Linked DNA regions of Homo sapiens: region 2 is linked to region 1. A link means that fine-mapping ties the variant in region 1 to the expression of a gene that starts in the linked region. Tissue or cell type: whole blood. Region 1 holds a variant in brackets; the other region holds the start of a gene. All regions are shown on one strand. Distances are between the middles of the regions.

Region 1 (8,000 bases):
CCATCCTGAGCCCCCTCCCCTTTCTTGAGTCCCTCCTCCATCCTGAGCCCCCTCCCCTTTCTTGAGCCCCTCCTCCATCCTGAGCCCCCTCCTCCATCCTGCCCCCTCCTCCATCCTGAGCCTCCTCCCCAACCCTGAATCCGCCCCTCCCGGCCCCTCCGGCCCTCCCCTGCCCAGGCAGCTGGTGGTGGACGCCCATCCTCTCTAGTGCTGACTCTCATTAAAGTGCATGATGGAAAGCAGGTGTGGCCGTCACTGTGTTTCTGGTCGTGGGTGTCACGGGGGAGGAAGGGTCTAGGCATGTCTCGGGGCAGCTGCAGGAGCTGCGGGGTCCTGGACCCCGAGGCACAACTAGTCACTGTGGGGTGGGGCCTCCTCAGCTGCCCTGGTCGGCGAGTGGGGGCACAGGTGGCTCCCGGTTTGGAGGAGGAGCAATTAATTTCGGTCTCCTCCCGGCAGCGGGAGGTGATTTCTCCGTCAAACACGGAAGCCTGCCGTGGCCGCACTGAGGGTGTGAGTGCTCGGCTTCCCGTCTGGGTCTTGGTGTCCTGTGAGTCGCACAGATCAGGGGCTGCAAGGGAGGGACTCTGAACGCTGCCAGGGCAGAGCAGGGTCCAGCGGGGTCCGGCTGGGCGGGGACGTGGCTCGGAGGACTTGGGAATGGCACTGATCACTGCCCGCTGCCTGTCTTAGAAAGCCCAGGGAGCCAGGGCAGTGTGGGAGACCCAGGAGCCCCCTGGGAGGTGGCGGGGTGCAGCTGGACCCTGGACCCCCGCCGAGAGCGCCCTGGGACGCGGGCTGTGGTCACGTCCCCTGAGGCCCTGGGCTGTGTCCAGCAGGTCTCACCCTGGGTTTAGAGCAGCCGGCAACCTGGCCTGGGGCTCCCCGCTTTCTCCCAGGAAGGGAAGCATGAGGAGTGTCAGAGGCAGCCAGCTCCCCGGGAAAGAAAGGGCAGTGCCCTACCCGTCCACACCCCGGGAGTCTTTCCCCCACTGCCTTGAAGTGCAGTGACTCCCCCAGCTGGGGCGCCCCAACTGCTCTGCTCTGCCCCACTCTGGAAAGACCAGGGGCGTGGGAGAAAGTATAAACCCAGATGTGGTTTCTGCGCGGAGGCTCAGAGCCTGGGTTTGCCCTGAAGCCCTTGCCCTGTGGGGATCCTCCCGACCCTCATCCCCGGGAGTGACAGGCAGGGCGGGCGAGGGCAGGTGGGAGGGTGAAGGCCAGTCCCCGAGCCGCTCACCTGCAGAAACTTCTGCGGAGGAGCCAGGAGCCTCCCCAGACCCTCCCTTTTGACCTTCCACCTCTTCTCTGCCCTGCAGAGGTCCCGAAAGCACAGGGGCAGAGGAGGAAGCCCCTGGTTTTGGGGGCCCGGGGGAGCGGACGCCAGAACCACACATTGACCTGCAGCCTGGGGTCTGGGCGCTGAGTCTGCCTGGTCCAGGTGCAGAATGAACACGGGGCGGAGGAGGGACGGGGCCGTTCTGGGCGTCGCCTGCCCCTCAGAGCACTGCTCTCCCTGCCCACACTGGCCTGGCCCTTAGAGGAAGCGCCCCAGGAAGGCACCCCATGCGGAGGCTGGGCCTCTCGCGGCCGTCCACTCCCGTCTCGCCCTGCGTGGTGGTGTCTGAGCTCTGGGACCCATGGCGTCGCCCGGTACAGGAGGGAGTCGGGGCAGGAATCTAAACCTAACCACTGCCCTGGGAGGCCAGGGCCCGGGGACGCGGAGGCCCCAGCACAGGAGCAGCGTGCAGCGTGCCGGCCTGGGTCCCCCGAGCCCCAACCCACTGCGCCTCCATCTCCGGTGACTTTCCTGCCTCGGTTTCCTCATCTGGAACCTGGCATTGAAGCAGCACCTGTGAGTGTCGCCCCCAGAGGACAGGAAACACACTTCCACACAGAGCCCGGAGACGCACGTCCACACAGAGCCCGGAGACCCACGTCCACACACAGCCCGGAGACCCACATCCACACACAGCCCGGAGACCCACGTCCACATAGAGCCCAGAGACGCACGTCCACACAGAGCCCGGAGACGCATGTCCACACAGAGCCCGGAGACCCACGTCCACACACAGCCCGGAGACGCACGTCCACACAGAGCCCGGAGACCCACGTCCACACACAGCCCGGAGACGCACGTCTACACAGAGCCCAGAGACGCACGTCCACACAGAGCCCGGAGCATGAATGTTCTCAGCATCTTTATTACCATAGCCAAAATGTGGAGGCCTCCAACAGGAGGTGGCTGAGCAAACCGCACCTGGCTGCAGCTTGGAATGCAAATCCATCCCACAGAGACGCCACACACTCTGCTCTTGCTCTTTAATCAGACAGAGACGCAGCGAGGCCCCCACCCTCCCTTCCCCGGCCCCTTCCCCACCCCGGCATCAGGGAGGTCCTGGGCGCTGAGGAGCCAGAGAAGCCGGGCTCAAGACGGTGGCCTGCAGCGGAGGCCGAAGCGGAGATCGCTGGGAGGAGGAAGGTCCTGGTCCCTCCTCAGCCGACCCAGGTGGGAGCCCAGCCCAGCCTGCTCAGGGCAACTCCCCGACTTGCTGCAGGATCCAGAGCACGTAGATCTGGACGTGGGTGTAGACGCCGGGAAAGTCCCGCAGGGTACAGCCGTAGCCCCAGCTGACCACCCCCACCAGGCGCCAGGACCCCCGCAGCCTGCAGACCAGAGGGCCGCCGGAGTCACCCTGAGGAAGGGAAGGAAAGGGGTCACCGCTGAGCTCTGCGGTGGGAGCAGGGCAGGCAGGCAGGGCGGGCCGGGGGCACTCACGTAGCAGGAGTCTCGGCCCTCGCTGCCGGCACACAGCATGTCATCCAGGATGAGCTGCCGGTCGCCAGTGTGCCCTGAGGCGTTGCGGTAGGGCTGCTCACAGACGGCGTTCTCCAGCACCTGCACACTCGCCTGCTGCAGGCGGTAGGGCGGCGGCAGCGACTCTGGGGAGAGAGGTGACCCCGGCTGGCACAGCGGAGACGCCCCTGCCGTCAACCCAGCAGCCCCAGCACCTCCCCAGGTTGGGAAGGAAGGTGGCTCCCTTGTGGCCAAGGGCCCCTAGTCCCGGCCTGAACCTCCCAGCCTGAGCACGGTGTGTGGGACCCCAGGAGGTGGGAGGGCTCGTGTCTCCCTCTAAACTCCCAGGGCTCGCAGTCGGACGGACCAGAGAAAAGTGGAGGGATGAGTTTTTCTGTTTTTTTTCCTCCAAAAAATGCCTTTTGGTTTTGAGGTGTTTTCGTTTGCGGTGTTTTTTCTTTTCTTTTCTTTTTTAGAGATGGGGTCTTGCTATGTTGCCCAGGCTGGCCTCAAACTCCCCGGCTCAAGCCATTCTCCTGCCTCTGCCTCCCAAAGTGCTGGGATCACAGGTGTGAGCCACCGCACCCAGCAAAAAAATTTAAAAACCTTTCCTAAGTAGAAAAAAATGAGAAGTATTTTCCCCTCTGAATAATGAGTCTGGAGCTTGGTGTGGCCATTGGCACTCGCAGGACCCCCGAGTCTCTGGGCCCGGGCAGCACAGAGCTGTGGGGAAAAGCAGCCGGAGGTGCTGCATGGCGGTGAGCAGCTCCGTCTCTTCCCTTTCTGGAACTCACCCACCCCACCACCACCCCCGGAGCCCTGGAATGAGGCGTTTTGGGCCCACAGCCCGAGTCCTTCCCCAGCCTCCACCCAACACGCCCCGAACATCCTGATCGCTCCCCAGCCAGTCACCCAGCACTGGTCCTTCGGGGTGAGCTCCAGCGAGACCGGGGAGAGCTTGACCGTCCTGACATTAGCGGCTCAGATCATGGGGCTCACCAGCTGGAGCAGGGCCACATCCGCACCCAGCCCCGCAGTGACATAGTTGGGGTGGACGATGATCCGGCTGACGTTCAGCAGCCCCCGGCCCCCGTAGAGATACACGTCCCCAGCGTGGATCCGGTAGATGGACGGGTCGGTGTCCTTCCTGGGGGAGGACGGATCCAGGCTGCTCAGGGGTCCTGGTCTGGGGCGGCCCCACTCCCACCTCCCCTCATTGGGGTCCCAGGCCCGGGACTCACCAGAAAATGCAGTGGGCAGCAGTCAGCACCCACTGGGGGTGGATGAGGGAGCCCCCACAGATGTGCGCCCAGGAGGCCCAGTGGTAGCTGTAGACCCTCAGGCTGACCTGCCACGGCCACTTCCCCGGGGGGGCATTGTGGCCCCCCACAATGCCCACCAGGTCATTCTCTGGGACGGGCACTGGGAACAACC[A/G]AAGGAGGTCAGGGAGCCGGGCCCCACCCTCCTGCAATGCCAGGAGCTTCCAGGCCCTGCTCGACGAGGGGGTCAGCTCTCCGTCCTAGCCCAGTCCCTGAGGGTCCAGTGTGGGATTGGGCCAGGAGTCACCTGGGGTCTTGGACATGGAGCCCCCCCAGGCAGGGGAGGGTCAGGAATAGCAGCCACAGCATCTGCGCAGGGAGGAGAGGGCTGGCTGGAAAGAGCCAGGAGGGACCTGGGTCTGGAGGCCACAGGTGGCTGCCGGTGGTCAGTGTCCTCACCGTGGTCTGTGGCCACAGCTGCCCTCCCGGACCCTCCCGGAGCTGCTTTCTCTTCCTTGCAAAGGAAGTGGGTGGGGCTCAGTCAGACATTCTTTTCCCAGGGTGGGGGCAATAGCTCCTAGCCCAGGCTGTAAACAGGGTGACCATGAGGATAGGGGCCACCCCCAGCCCCTCGCATCCCCTCTGCTGGGCCAACAGAGGTCCTGTACCCGGGTTCCCTGTCTACACCAGTGGCTCCCACGGGTGACTATGTCCCCCAGGGGACATTTATGCTTGTCAGGGATATAGGGACACCACCCACATCTAGTGGGAAGAGGCCGGGGTTGGGGGGCTAAATGTCTACGGTGCACAGGATGGCCCCACTGCAGAGGGCCCCTGGCCCCAAATGCCCACAGTGCTCAGGTTGTCGCCATGCTACCCATTCTCATGGCCAGTGCCACAGAGGCCAAGGAAGCACCTAGTAACCAGCTCTCCCGCAGCCTCTCCTGCCACCCGGGACGGGACGGGCACTTGTACACACCTCCACGGGTGCAAAAGTATCAGCCAGAGGGCCTGCCAGAGGCACTTGGAGCCTGGGCCAGGGGACCCGCCTGCTCCATGGTGGCCGCCCCAGGCCCAGGCTCCAGTCCTTGGAGGGAGTTTGTGGAGCCCACACAGGGAGATCTTCTGGATGGGCTCCAGGAACCTGTTTTAATCAGTACAAACCTCAGGTTGCAGGAGGGGCACACTCTGCTCTGGGAGAGGGGCCGTCACCTGCTGGGAGTCTCAGAGGGTGGGGAGCTGCATTCTCAGGCCAGGGCCCAGCCCCCTGGGCCCCAGCTGCCCACTGCTGTGCCTTGGGGCTCCGGCAGCAAATGCCTGTTTCAGCCCAGGTGGCAGACACGTTCTGGGGCTGACAGGGGCAGCAGAGGCCGAGGCCCAACCCTACAGCCTCTCCTCCAGAAGTCTTGCTTTGCCATGAGATTGTAACCAGGGTGATTGTGGTGGTGTGGGAACACAAGGGAGCACTGTGAATGGGTGGGGGTGTGGGGGGTGCCTGTGTGTGTGTGCATACGTGTGTGGGCATGGGGTGTGCACATGCCTCTGTGTGCATGTATGTGTGTGCATGTGTGAGTATAAGTGTGTGCATGTGTGTAAGCATGTGAGTGTGCATGTGTGTGTGTGAGCATGTGTGTGCATGCATGTGTGCATGTATGTGTGGATGTGTGTGTGCCTGCATGTATGAGTGTGTGCATGTGTGTACGAGTGTGTGTGTATGAGTGTGTATATGGGTGTGTGCGTGTGTATATGTGTGTGTGCATGTGTGTATGAGTGTGTGCATGCTGCTGTTTGTGTTTGCGTGTGTGTGCGTGTGTTTGCATGTGTGTGAGTATAAGTGTAAGCATGTGTGTAAGTGTGGGTGTGTGCATGCGTGTATGAGTGTGTGTGTGCGTGTATGAGTGTGTGCATGTGTGTATGCGTGTGCATATGTAAGGATGTGTGCGTGTGTGCGCGTCAGTTTGCATGTGTTTGTGTGCCTGTGTGTGCGTATGAGTGTGCATGTGTGCATGTAAGCATGTGTGTGCATGCATGTATGTGTGTGCATGTGTATGAGTGTGCGCATGTGCGTGTGTGTGCATGTGAGTATGAAAGTGCGTGCATGTTTGAAAGCATGTGTGTGCGTGCATGTGAATGTGTGTGTGCATGTGTGTATGAATGTGTGCATGTAAGCATGTGCATACGTGATGTGTGCATGTGTGTGCATGTATGAGTGTGTGCATATGTGTGCATATGCATGTGTGTATGAGTGTGTGTCTGCATGCATGTGTGTGCATGCTTGTGAGTATGAGTGCATGTGTGCGTGTGTGCATGTATGTGTGTGCACGCATGTGTGTGCATGTGTGCATGCATCAGTGTGTGCATGCGTGTATGTGTGTGCATGCATGTATGAGTGAGTGTGCATTGAGTTTGTACATTGTGCGTGTGCATGTGTGTGTGCATGCGTGTATGAGTGTGTGTGTGTGCCCGCATGTCCTCCAGCTGGAGCAAATCCAGCCTTCTCCATGCTACCAGCAGCTTCCTGGTGATGCCTCAGGATTCCCCGGAGGCTGAGGGAGTGGGTCCCCGAGGCTGGGCCTGCAGCTGTGAAATCCTCTGCAGCCAGACTTCCACCTGCATGCCCAGCCCTGCACCTCCCTGCATGGGGAGGAGAGAAGCCCCAGGCTGCCCGAGATGGACTCCCAGCTGCCCCGTCCCTCCCTCCTGGCCGCATTCACCCATCATGGGCCAGGACCTCTGGCTCTGTGCCTTGGGAGCCGCTGCACCCCTCACTCCCAGAGGGCTTGGCCCACGCCCACTTCAAGCTGCTGCCCAGGCCCATGGAGTGGGCAGCTCCATCTGAAGATGCAAGAAGGAGACAGGAGAGCAGCTGGAGGATGGGAGGGCTGGGAGGCCAGCCAGGTGAGGCCAGGAGAGGCTGATGGGAGGGAAGCTCGGGTCTGGATCACCTGGGTTCCTTGTTTAGAGCCAGAGGGCCGAGGAGAAGAGAGGACAGCTGCTTAGCCTGGGGGCTTTCTTGGTGATTCCTCTCCCTCCCGGGACACGAGGATAATGTGGCAGCTGCGTCACGGGTGCAGGACTCTCCTGGTCCCCCACCCAGCTGCCGGGAGGCAGGGTCCAGGAGGCCCAGGTAAGGCGGGGACGGCACCAGCCTCGAACCAGCCAAGATCCGCGAAGCACAGCCAGTCTGAGGGCTGCGGGGCGAGCGTGGCCAGGGCTTCCAGGGAGGCCTGGAGCCTACAGTCAGGGGTCCTGGGCTGCGGGGGGCTGGGGGAGAGGCCGAGGACCCCTCGAGCCCCAGCTGAGTCCAGGTTGGGTGAACCAAGCTTGCCCGGGAGAGGCCAAGGAGCCCTTGGGCCCCAGCCGAGTCCAGGTTGGGTGAGCCAAGCTCGCCCTGTGCAGAGACAGGAACGTCGGATTCTCACGTGGAGGATGCAGGTGACACTTTCCTTTTATCTTTTATTCGGTGCTTTATACTTGGAATCAGATGTGAGGTCGGCCAAAATTGGGCATTGTTGTGTGGAGAAGGTTCTACAAGTTGCCCAGTGCTGTGTCTGCACAGGGAGGCTCCTACAGGACGTGCAGGTGAAGGAGGAAAATACCTCCGGGGTCAGGAGCCGGGTGCAGTGGTGAGTTGAACTGCATTTGCCGAAAAGATACGTTCAAGCCTGAGCCCCAGGAACTGTGAACGTCACTTGATTCCGAAATGAGGCTTTTGCAGACGTAATTGAGGATGTCAAGATGAGATCATTCTGGAATTAGAGTGGGCCCTAAATCCAATGACAGGCATCCTTATAAGAGAAAGGAGAGGGGGCCTGAGACCTAGAGCGGTGGAGGAAGGCCGGGGAAGGCAGGCAGGGATGGGAGTGATGTGGCTGCAAGCCAAGGACAGCCAGCAGCGCCGGACACGAGGAGACAGGCATGGAGCGGCCCCTCCCTCCAAGCCT
Region 2 (8,000 bases), 110 kb before region 1:
GCTTCCCGCCCAGCACGGTCTCGAGGGTGGTGGATCCCAAAATTCCTTGGGATGCCAGCGCAGTCCCTTCAGCCACCCAGTCAGCAGGTATTTATTGGCACCTACTGGATGCTAGGCAGGAGCAAAGGACACTCACCTGCTCCCCACTCCAGGGTCTCGTGTCTCTGACTCCATGGCAGGACAAAGGTGAGAGCCCGCCATGCTTCGGGGCGACCTACCGGGCTCCGTCCTGCCCTTGAGTCTGCGGCTCAATGGGGCCCCACCGAGGCTGCTCCCAGGGAAGAAGCATTCTGGCCAGGCAGGGCCCGAGCCTGTGTCAGTGAGAGGCCCTGTTGCCTGCCCTGGAGGCCGATCCCTGCAGGGGCCAGTCTAGGCAGGGACGCCCCTCTTGTCTGCATATTCCCGGGGCCTGGCTTCCTGGCCGCGTGGGCAGCCTCCTTGGTGGCGGTGACCTGGGTCCCCGGCTCACAGGCCACACGTAGCAGCAGAACCCAGAGCTGGCTGGGAGAAGGGGTCTCACTGGACACCAGGCAGTGACCGCCACGGCTGGCTCTCCAGGCTTTGCCAGGAGAGGACTCTGTCCACCAGCCCTTGGTCCAGATTCTGGCAGACCAGCCACGGGCCCCACTGCTACAGGGAGCTGAGGACCAGTCAGGGCGTGCCTGTCCCATCGCTGCCATGCCGGGCCCCACTGCCGACGTCCTCCTTCCCCTGGGCAGCGTGGGGGATGCTGAAATCCGTGGGAGACCCCGAGAAGCCCACCCCACCTTCTTGGGTTCCGCCACATGATGGCTGAGCTAGGAGGTCACTTGTACTCTCTCCCCGCAGCTCTTTGTCAAAGAAAAGCATTGCCCTTAAAAACAACCCCGGCCAAAAAAAGAAAAAAGGAAACAGCGAAAACCAGAAGCAAATTTTCCAGAGACCTGGAGGATTAGAAACAATACATCTGAACGTTCTGGAGTTGAATTAAACCATCTCAATGCCGGTTTCCAACCGTCCTGGGCTTCTCTCTGACGCTCAGCGAAGGGCGCGCATCACGGCATCACCGCTCTCAGGACGATTTCCCGTCTCGTCTCACTGGACCGTCTGCCGTTTATGTCCTTTCTCGGTGGAGGCCCTCACGTCGCGTTGAGGTGGTCCCCGCTCCGGCTGCGTGAACGCGGCCTCAGCTGCCTCATCTTCCGGCAGATGGATGTTCAGAGCAGGGAGCATCCATGTTCCAGGCGTGCGGGCACCTGTCCCGCCGGACGTGGAGCGTGCAAGTCAGTGGGCAGCAGCCCAGGGGACACAGAGCCCCCAAGGACAAGGTGGGCACGCCATCCGATGGGCTGGAGTGAACGGAAAGCGGTGGGAGGCAGCCTCCGTCCCAGACCTTGAGCTGGAAAATGCCCGCCCGGGTGCTGGAGAGGCTCCAACTGGTCTGCAAATTGTCCGTGGGATGCCTGGCGACTGCACGCTTTCTCAGATTACAGACACTTTCTTTAAAAAAAATCTGTGGGCCGGGCGCGGTGACTTACGCCTGTAATCCCCATACTTTCAGAGTCTGAGGCAGGCGGATCACGAGGTCAGGAGTTCAAGACCAGCCTGGCCAACATGGCAAAACCCCGTCTCTTCTAAAAATATGAAAATTAGCTGGGCATGGTAATTACATGCCTGTAATCCCAGCTACACGGGAGGCTGAGGCAGGAGAATCGCTTGAACTGACACCAGGAGGCGGAGTTTGCAGTGAGCCGAGATCACGCCACTACACTCCAGCCTGTGATACAGAGCGAAACTATGTCTCAAAAAAAAAAAAAAAAAAAAGTCTGTTATAGAAGTCCGTGGTCTTTTTCCCTTCTGCCGACATCTGGAGGACAGAGTGTGGCCGGGAGGGCAACAGCTGCTGTGTTCAGAATTCCAAGATGCTTCCCAGGCGCCCTCTGGGTCTTCCCGCTCCCCGGCTCCCTCCGGCCTGCCACAGGGCCTTTGCATGGGCTGCCGTTGCTGCTGGAAAGAGCCTCTGCTCCTCTTCCGGCTGCCGGCTTGTCCTCACAGAGGCCCCGCCCTCGTCTATCTGGGCGCCCCCTGGCACTTAGTTTGGAAACTGTTTTCTCCTCCCCATAAGACGGAAGCTGCAGGCATGAGAACCGGGTCTGTCTGGTCACAGCCAAGGCACCTCCACCCTCCAACCGGGCCCCGCGCACTGTCCACCCTCAACTACCATTTGTCCAGCAAATCAACGACAGCCCCCAGCTAGAATCTGGAGCTTCAGTCTGTGGCTTTGCCTTAGCTTTAATTAATTAATTAATTAACTTATTATTTTTTTGAGGCAGAGTCCACTCTGTCACCCAGGCTGGAGTGCAGTGGCGTGATCTCGGCTCACTGCAACCTCTGCCTCCTGGGTTCAAGTGATTCTCCTCCCTCAGCATCCCGAGTAGCGGGGATTACAGGCATATGTCACCATGCCTGGCTAATTTTTGTATTTTAGTAGAGACGGGATTTCACCATGTTGGTCAGGCTGGTCTCGAACTCCTGACCTCAAGTGATCCACACACCTCGGCCTCCCAAAGTGCTGGGATTACAGGCGTGAGCCACTGCACCTGGCCCACCCTAACTTTTAACGAGCAGGGTGTTGATAAAAAGATCAGAGGTTCCAAGTGCCCTCTGGACCGGACTCCGATTCAGCGTTTGTGTCTCCCCACCTGCTCCAGCCTCCCTCCACGGATGTGTCCAAAGCACGGGGCTCTCCTAGGTCCTGCTCCTCTGTGGCTGGAACCTTAATTGGACCTTTGAAGGCCTAATTCACCAGCTGTGGCCCTCCATCGCTGAGTAGTTGCATTAAAATAGACTGAATGTTTTCCTTTTCTTGAAAGTTCCCGTATACAGGAGGAGGTGCTGCTGAAAGGACCTGTACCCCAGCCAGGCCCCCACACTCCTGCCTTCCAGTTCCTCGGCCCACCCCAGGTGCTGTGTGTCCTTCCGGGCCCCAGCTGGGCAGGGCCTCTTCTTCACCCTGCACGATGTGGCCCACCCGGGGGAGGTCCTGCTTCTCTGCTGCTCACCCGCAGGTGGGAAGCCACAGCCGCCCCACAGCCTCTCCGGGTCTGGGGTCTCAGGGTGCGCCCTGGAGCAGGGCCTCTTTGTCTGGAGGGAGAAGGGGTCTCTCCCACTACCAGGGGCCCCTTGTTGGCGGGCGTGCTGAGGTGCACACCTGGGAGCTCAAGCTCCCTGGTGCACAAAGCAGTGGTCCCAGAAGCAAAACCACCCTTCCAGCCTGGAGGGGTGCCCTGGGGGGAGTCAGGAGCCTGGGCACCTGCCCCCACCTGCTGGCACCTCGAGGTGCGGCCAGCCCTCCCTGGGACAAGGGCCTGGCCATCCCCAATGTCTGAAGGGTCCACCCCTTCCCGACCAAACCACTTGCTCTGAGGGTCCAGGGGAAGGCCCTTCTGCTGGCCTGGCTGAAGGAGCAGCTGCTGGCAGGGGGAAGGGGCCTGCACTTCTCCTCGGGGGCCCCTGGGTGAGTCTCGCTGAGGCAGCGGGGTTGGAGGATGCAGGAGCACCAGGCTGCCGTCCCCAGGGTCCCCCAGATCCCCACGCGGGAGGGGACCGGAGACGAGGACAAGTTCGCGGAAACTGCCCGTGCGTGTCGGGGAGAGATGCGAGTGCAGGAGCGCCCAGCCGTAAAGCACACCCCCGCCCGCCCCCGCGCCCCATCACACACGCGCGCGCGGGCACACCCGGGACACACACGCGGCGGGGAAGGGGCACGCAGCCTCTCGCCTTCCACGCCCGCCCGGTCCCCGCCCCTCCGCCGACCCGGGCCCGCGTCGTAGTGGGGGTGGGGGTGGGGGCGGCGGCGGCGCGCGCGGCAGCGCGAAGGGGGAGGGGGAGCCGGAGCGGGAGGGGGAGGGGCGCGGCATCGGCGGCTCGGCCGCCCCCGCAGTTGGGGGCAGGGAAGGACGTAGGTGCTCCCCCTCCCACCCCGCCGGAGCCTCCCGCGAGCGCCCCCTGGTGCACCCCACGCCCGGCATTGTTGGGGAGCACGAAAAGCGGGGAGCCCAGTGCGGGGGCGTGGAGGGGGCGCGGGCGGGGTCCAACTTCCCGCACCCGGGGGGGGGCGGGGCGCCGGGCGGCGACAGGGAGGGGTCGCTCGGGCGCGCGCGTCTCGGGCCGGGGGCGGATCCTCCCCAGTACCCCCCCGCCCGCCCCGCCCCCGGCCCCGCCCCGGCCACGCTGGCCCCGCCCCGGTCGCGCCGGCCCCGCCCCGCCCCGCCCCCCGCCGCTCAGCCCGAAGTTTCCTGCGCCGCGCGCGGACGGGCTCGAGGCTCGCTCGCTGCCTCACCGGTCCCCGGCCCGCGCCCCGCGCCCCGCGCCCCGCGCCCCGGCCTCACCCGTCCGCTCAGCGGCCTCCACGCCGCGCCGAGGCCGCCGCCGTCGCCTCCGCCGGGCGAGCCGGAGCCGGAGTCGAGCCGCGGCCGGGAGCCGGGCGGGCTGGGGACGCGGGCCGGGGGCGGAGGCGCTGGGGGCCGGGGCCGGGGCCGGGGGCGGAGGCGCTGGGGGCCGGGGCCGGGGCCGGGCGCCGAGCGGGGTCCGCGGTGACCGCGCCGCCCGGGCGATGCCCGCGGGGACGCCGCCGGCCAGCAGAGCGAGGTGAGACGCGGCGAGGACGCGCGCCCGGGACCCTCTTCAACTTGCGCGAAGCGGGCCGGGGAGCCCCTCGGGGTGGGGGTGGGGCCGCTGGAGGGAGGGAGGGGGCGGGCGGGGGCGGGGGGCGCGTTTGTCTCTAATAAGAAAAGACAAAGACATCCCGGCGGCCGCGGCTGTTCCCGCAGCTCCGCGCCGCGGGAGGCAGGGCGGGGGCGTCGCCACCGGCCCCGGGTCACCCCCTGTCCTCTGCAGGTGCTGCCGGCCGCCACCATGACCGAGGGCGCACGGGCCGCCGACGAGGTCCGGGTGCCCCTGGGCGCGCCGCCCCCTGGCCCTGCGGCGTTGGTGGGGGCGTCCCCGGAGAGCCCCGGGGCGCCGGGACGCGAGGCGGAGCGGGGGTCCGAGCTCGGCGTGTCACCCTCCGAGAGCCCGGCGGCCGAGCGCGGCGCGGAGCTGGGTGCCGACGAGGAGCAGCGCGTCCCGTACCCGGCCTTGGCGGCCACGGTCTTCTTCTGCCTCGGTCAGACCACGCGGCCGCGCAGCTGGTGCCTCCGGCTGGTCTGCAACCCATATCCTTCCCGGCCGGCGGGGGGCGGGGGGCGGGGGGCGTGGGGAGGGTGGGGGCCCGGGGCGCGGGACTCCCTCGGCATGCGCCCCCGCGCGCCCCTGTTGGTGGGACCTGGCGTGGGCCGGGCGCGCGGGGGTGCAGGGCAGGGGCTGGAGGACCGCGCTCTAATTTCTGAGAGTGGCGGGCTTGGGGGGCCACCGGGCGCCTCCGGACTCCCTTCCCCAGGGCCGGCTCCGGACGGAGAAGGTGGAAGCGAAGCGGTGAGGCCCCCGCGGGCTTGGAGGGGAGAGGAGTCGGGGAGGGAGGGAAGGTCCTAACTCCTCGCGGCCCCAAGGGTGTTGGCCAGGACGGGAATTTCCCCCTTGCCCACCCCTCACTGTCTGAAGGTCCTGCCCGAGGCAGGCCCCTCGCGGGGGAGGGGGAGGCCAGAGGAGCTGGAGTCAGGGGCGCAAAGTTTTCAGCCGGCGCCTGGTGGTTCCGAGTGCGTGGGGAGACCCGTGGGGCCTGTGAGCGCCGCCAGGGCCTTTTCCGTGGAGAGAGGCGGTGACGTTGGTTGTGAACTCGCTTTTTCTGGCTGAACTCGGTGGCGGGGCTGACTTAAGTCATGCGCAGCTGAAGGGTAGGGGGCAGGGAGGCAATTGGCACTGCCAAGGGGGAGTCTCATCTCCCCAGCCCCTTCCCTGGCTGGAGAGGAAGAGGCAGCCTCTTCTACTCTCGGCCAGAGCGGCACAGACTGCAGAGAAGGTTCCAGAACAGAGTTGGGTCAGGGCCAGGGGCATTTGTGGGATGTACACGGAGGTCCAGGGGGCCCCCCAGCAGGTGGCCTTGGGGGCGGGTCTCCGCGTGCCCTGAGAAGGGCCTTGCGTGGTGCCTGTGTCAGGGCCGGGTCTCCCCACCGGCCCTTCTGAGCCGGCAGCTGGGGTGGCCAGGCCGTGGCTTCTGCTCCGGGCCTGGGGACGGGTGGAGAGACCCTGCCCGCAGACGTCCCCCGTCGGAGGTGGGGAGACAGGCTGGCAGCAGGAGCGGCCTGTGTACACTTCCCTACCTTGTGTGTTTAACTGTACAAATATTAAACACGAAAGAGGAATCTGTACAAAAAAAGTCATAAAGCCCGTGTTTCTCCTTTCTCAAATCCAAACATCGAGTGAGTCAGACTCATCTCTGCTTGTAGAGGAAGAGGAGGCTGCTGTGGTCCCGGGGGCAGCCGGCCCCGGCCAGAGGGCTGCCTCGGAGCCCCACACCCGCTGCCCGGGCGGCCTAGGCCTCTGTAGCCTCAGGGTGGTGTCTGCGAGTAGGTGGGTGTCCCCGGGAGCCGAGGTGCAGGCCCGGCCTTGAAGAGCGGTTGTAGGTTTGTCTCCTCTCTAGAACCAAGGCGGGAGGTGGTCATGCCCCTTTGTTCTGGTAGGAGGTGACTGGGTGTGGGGTTAGTCCGGCGGTGCCAGCAGGCCATGGGGAAGGGTCTGGAAGGGACTGCATGGGTTGGAATGGGAGGCTGGCCCCGAGCCAAGGCCTGCGTTCCTTGTTTCCCAACGTGTGCAGACCGGAGAAGGGAAAGAGTTGAGCAAGCCTGGACTCTCTCCTCACAGCCCCGGGCCTGGCTGCCCCATCCCCAAGCAGGGCATGGACTCTCTTCACAGCCCCGGGCCTGGCTGTCCTGTCCCCTCTCGGCTGAGAGAGTTTTGGAGCCTGGCCCCGGTGTTCTGGGCTGGCTGTGTGTCTCAGGACTTCCAAGGAGGTTGTTTGCGTTGCTGTGTGCAGGGAAGGTGTTGGCTGGGTGGCCTCATGCAGGTGGGATGAGCTCTCCAGGGGGAGAGGAGGGCTGGGGCCAGCGGCATCACGTGACCCAAGCGCTGTCCCCCGGTGTCCTGAGGAGCTGTCCTTTTGGGCTTTGTGACCTGACAGGAGTATGCTCTGGTAGCCCGAGAGGGACTTGGGTGCTGTCCTGGTCTCGGGGGCTGGATGGTGCTCTCAGCCTGGGAAGAACAGAGCATGCCCCATCCCTGGTGTCCCCAGGGCTCTCTGGGCTGGGAGAGAATGGGTGGTCGGCCTCCTGCCCTTCGATGGCATCCCTTGCTTGGAGCACTGGGTCTGCCTGCGGCACGGCAGGACCCCCCACCCTCCTCGCCGCCAGCACCTCTGGCACGCTTTGGCTCTCCCAGCTCCAAACGCAGTGATGGGGGGTGTCCCCACTCCAGGAGACATGGGAAGCAGAGCTTAGACCCCAAGCTTGGTTCATTCTTGGCCCCGTGGAAACGCCCGTCGGTCAGGTGGAGTGGGCTTGTGGAGGCCCCGGCTGCATGGGGGTGGGTGTGACCACCAGCAGATGCCTGGCCTGTAGCGAGGGTGTGTGTCCTGGCGTCAGAGAGAACCTAAAATAAGCTGGCAGGCCTGGACAGGTGGGGGGATTGGCTGAGCCGGGGAAGCCCATGTGGGCCATGGCTGAGGCTTTCCAGAGCGCTTCAGATTCCTGGGAGTTGGGAGGGGGAGGCTTTGCAGGAGGCGGCAGGGGCGGTGGGCGACTGGTGTGGCTGGGGTGTGTCCCGTAGCAAGAGGGTGCTTCCTGGGCCTCAGCCTCCCCTCCCTCCGCAGGGCCCCGCATCCCTCCTGAAGAGGGTGAACTCTGAGAGGGAGGGATAATCGGATTTGCTCAGGGAACCCACACTCAGTAAAGTGACTCCATGCTCCCGGGGGTTGGCAGAGCCCCAGCTGCTGTCCGCCGGGCCCAGCCTGAGCCGGGGTTCAGTCAGCACAGGAACCTGGGGGAGGGCCCGCGTTTATCCCTGAACCTCTCCTGAACCCCGGGGTA

The links. PIP is the estimated chance that this variant, and not a neighbour inherited with it, causes the effect.
Region 2: CACNA1H starts here. The variant in region 1 is fine-mapped to the expression of CACNA1H in whole blood (TOPMed, PIP 0.91).

Annotation. Positions count from the first base shown.
Region 1 is chr16:1,258,767-1,266,766 of GRCh38, forward strand. It overlaps TPSD1 (tryptase delta 1), which reads left to right. Exons shown (of 5, transcript NM_012217.3): 5 at 1-242. It also overlaps the pseudogene PRSS29P. Among named protein-coding and RNA genes, the nearest start is that of TPSD1, 6.7 kb to the left of the region's middle. The variant A/G (reference allele first, on the strand shown) is at 4,232.
Region 2 is chr16:1,148,842-1,156,841 of GRCh38, forward strand. CACNA1H (calcium voltage-gated channel subunit alpha1 H) reads left to right here and starts at 4,265. Exons shown (of 35, transcript NM_021098.3): 1 at 4,265-4,629; 2 at 4,879-5,195. The coding sequence starts at 4,897. RefSeq lists enhancers at 3,164-3,744, 5,119-5,886.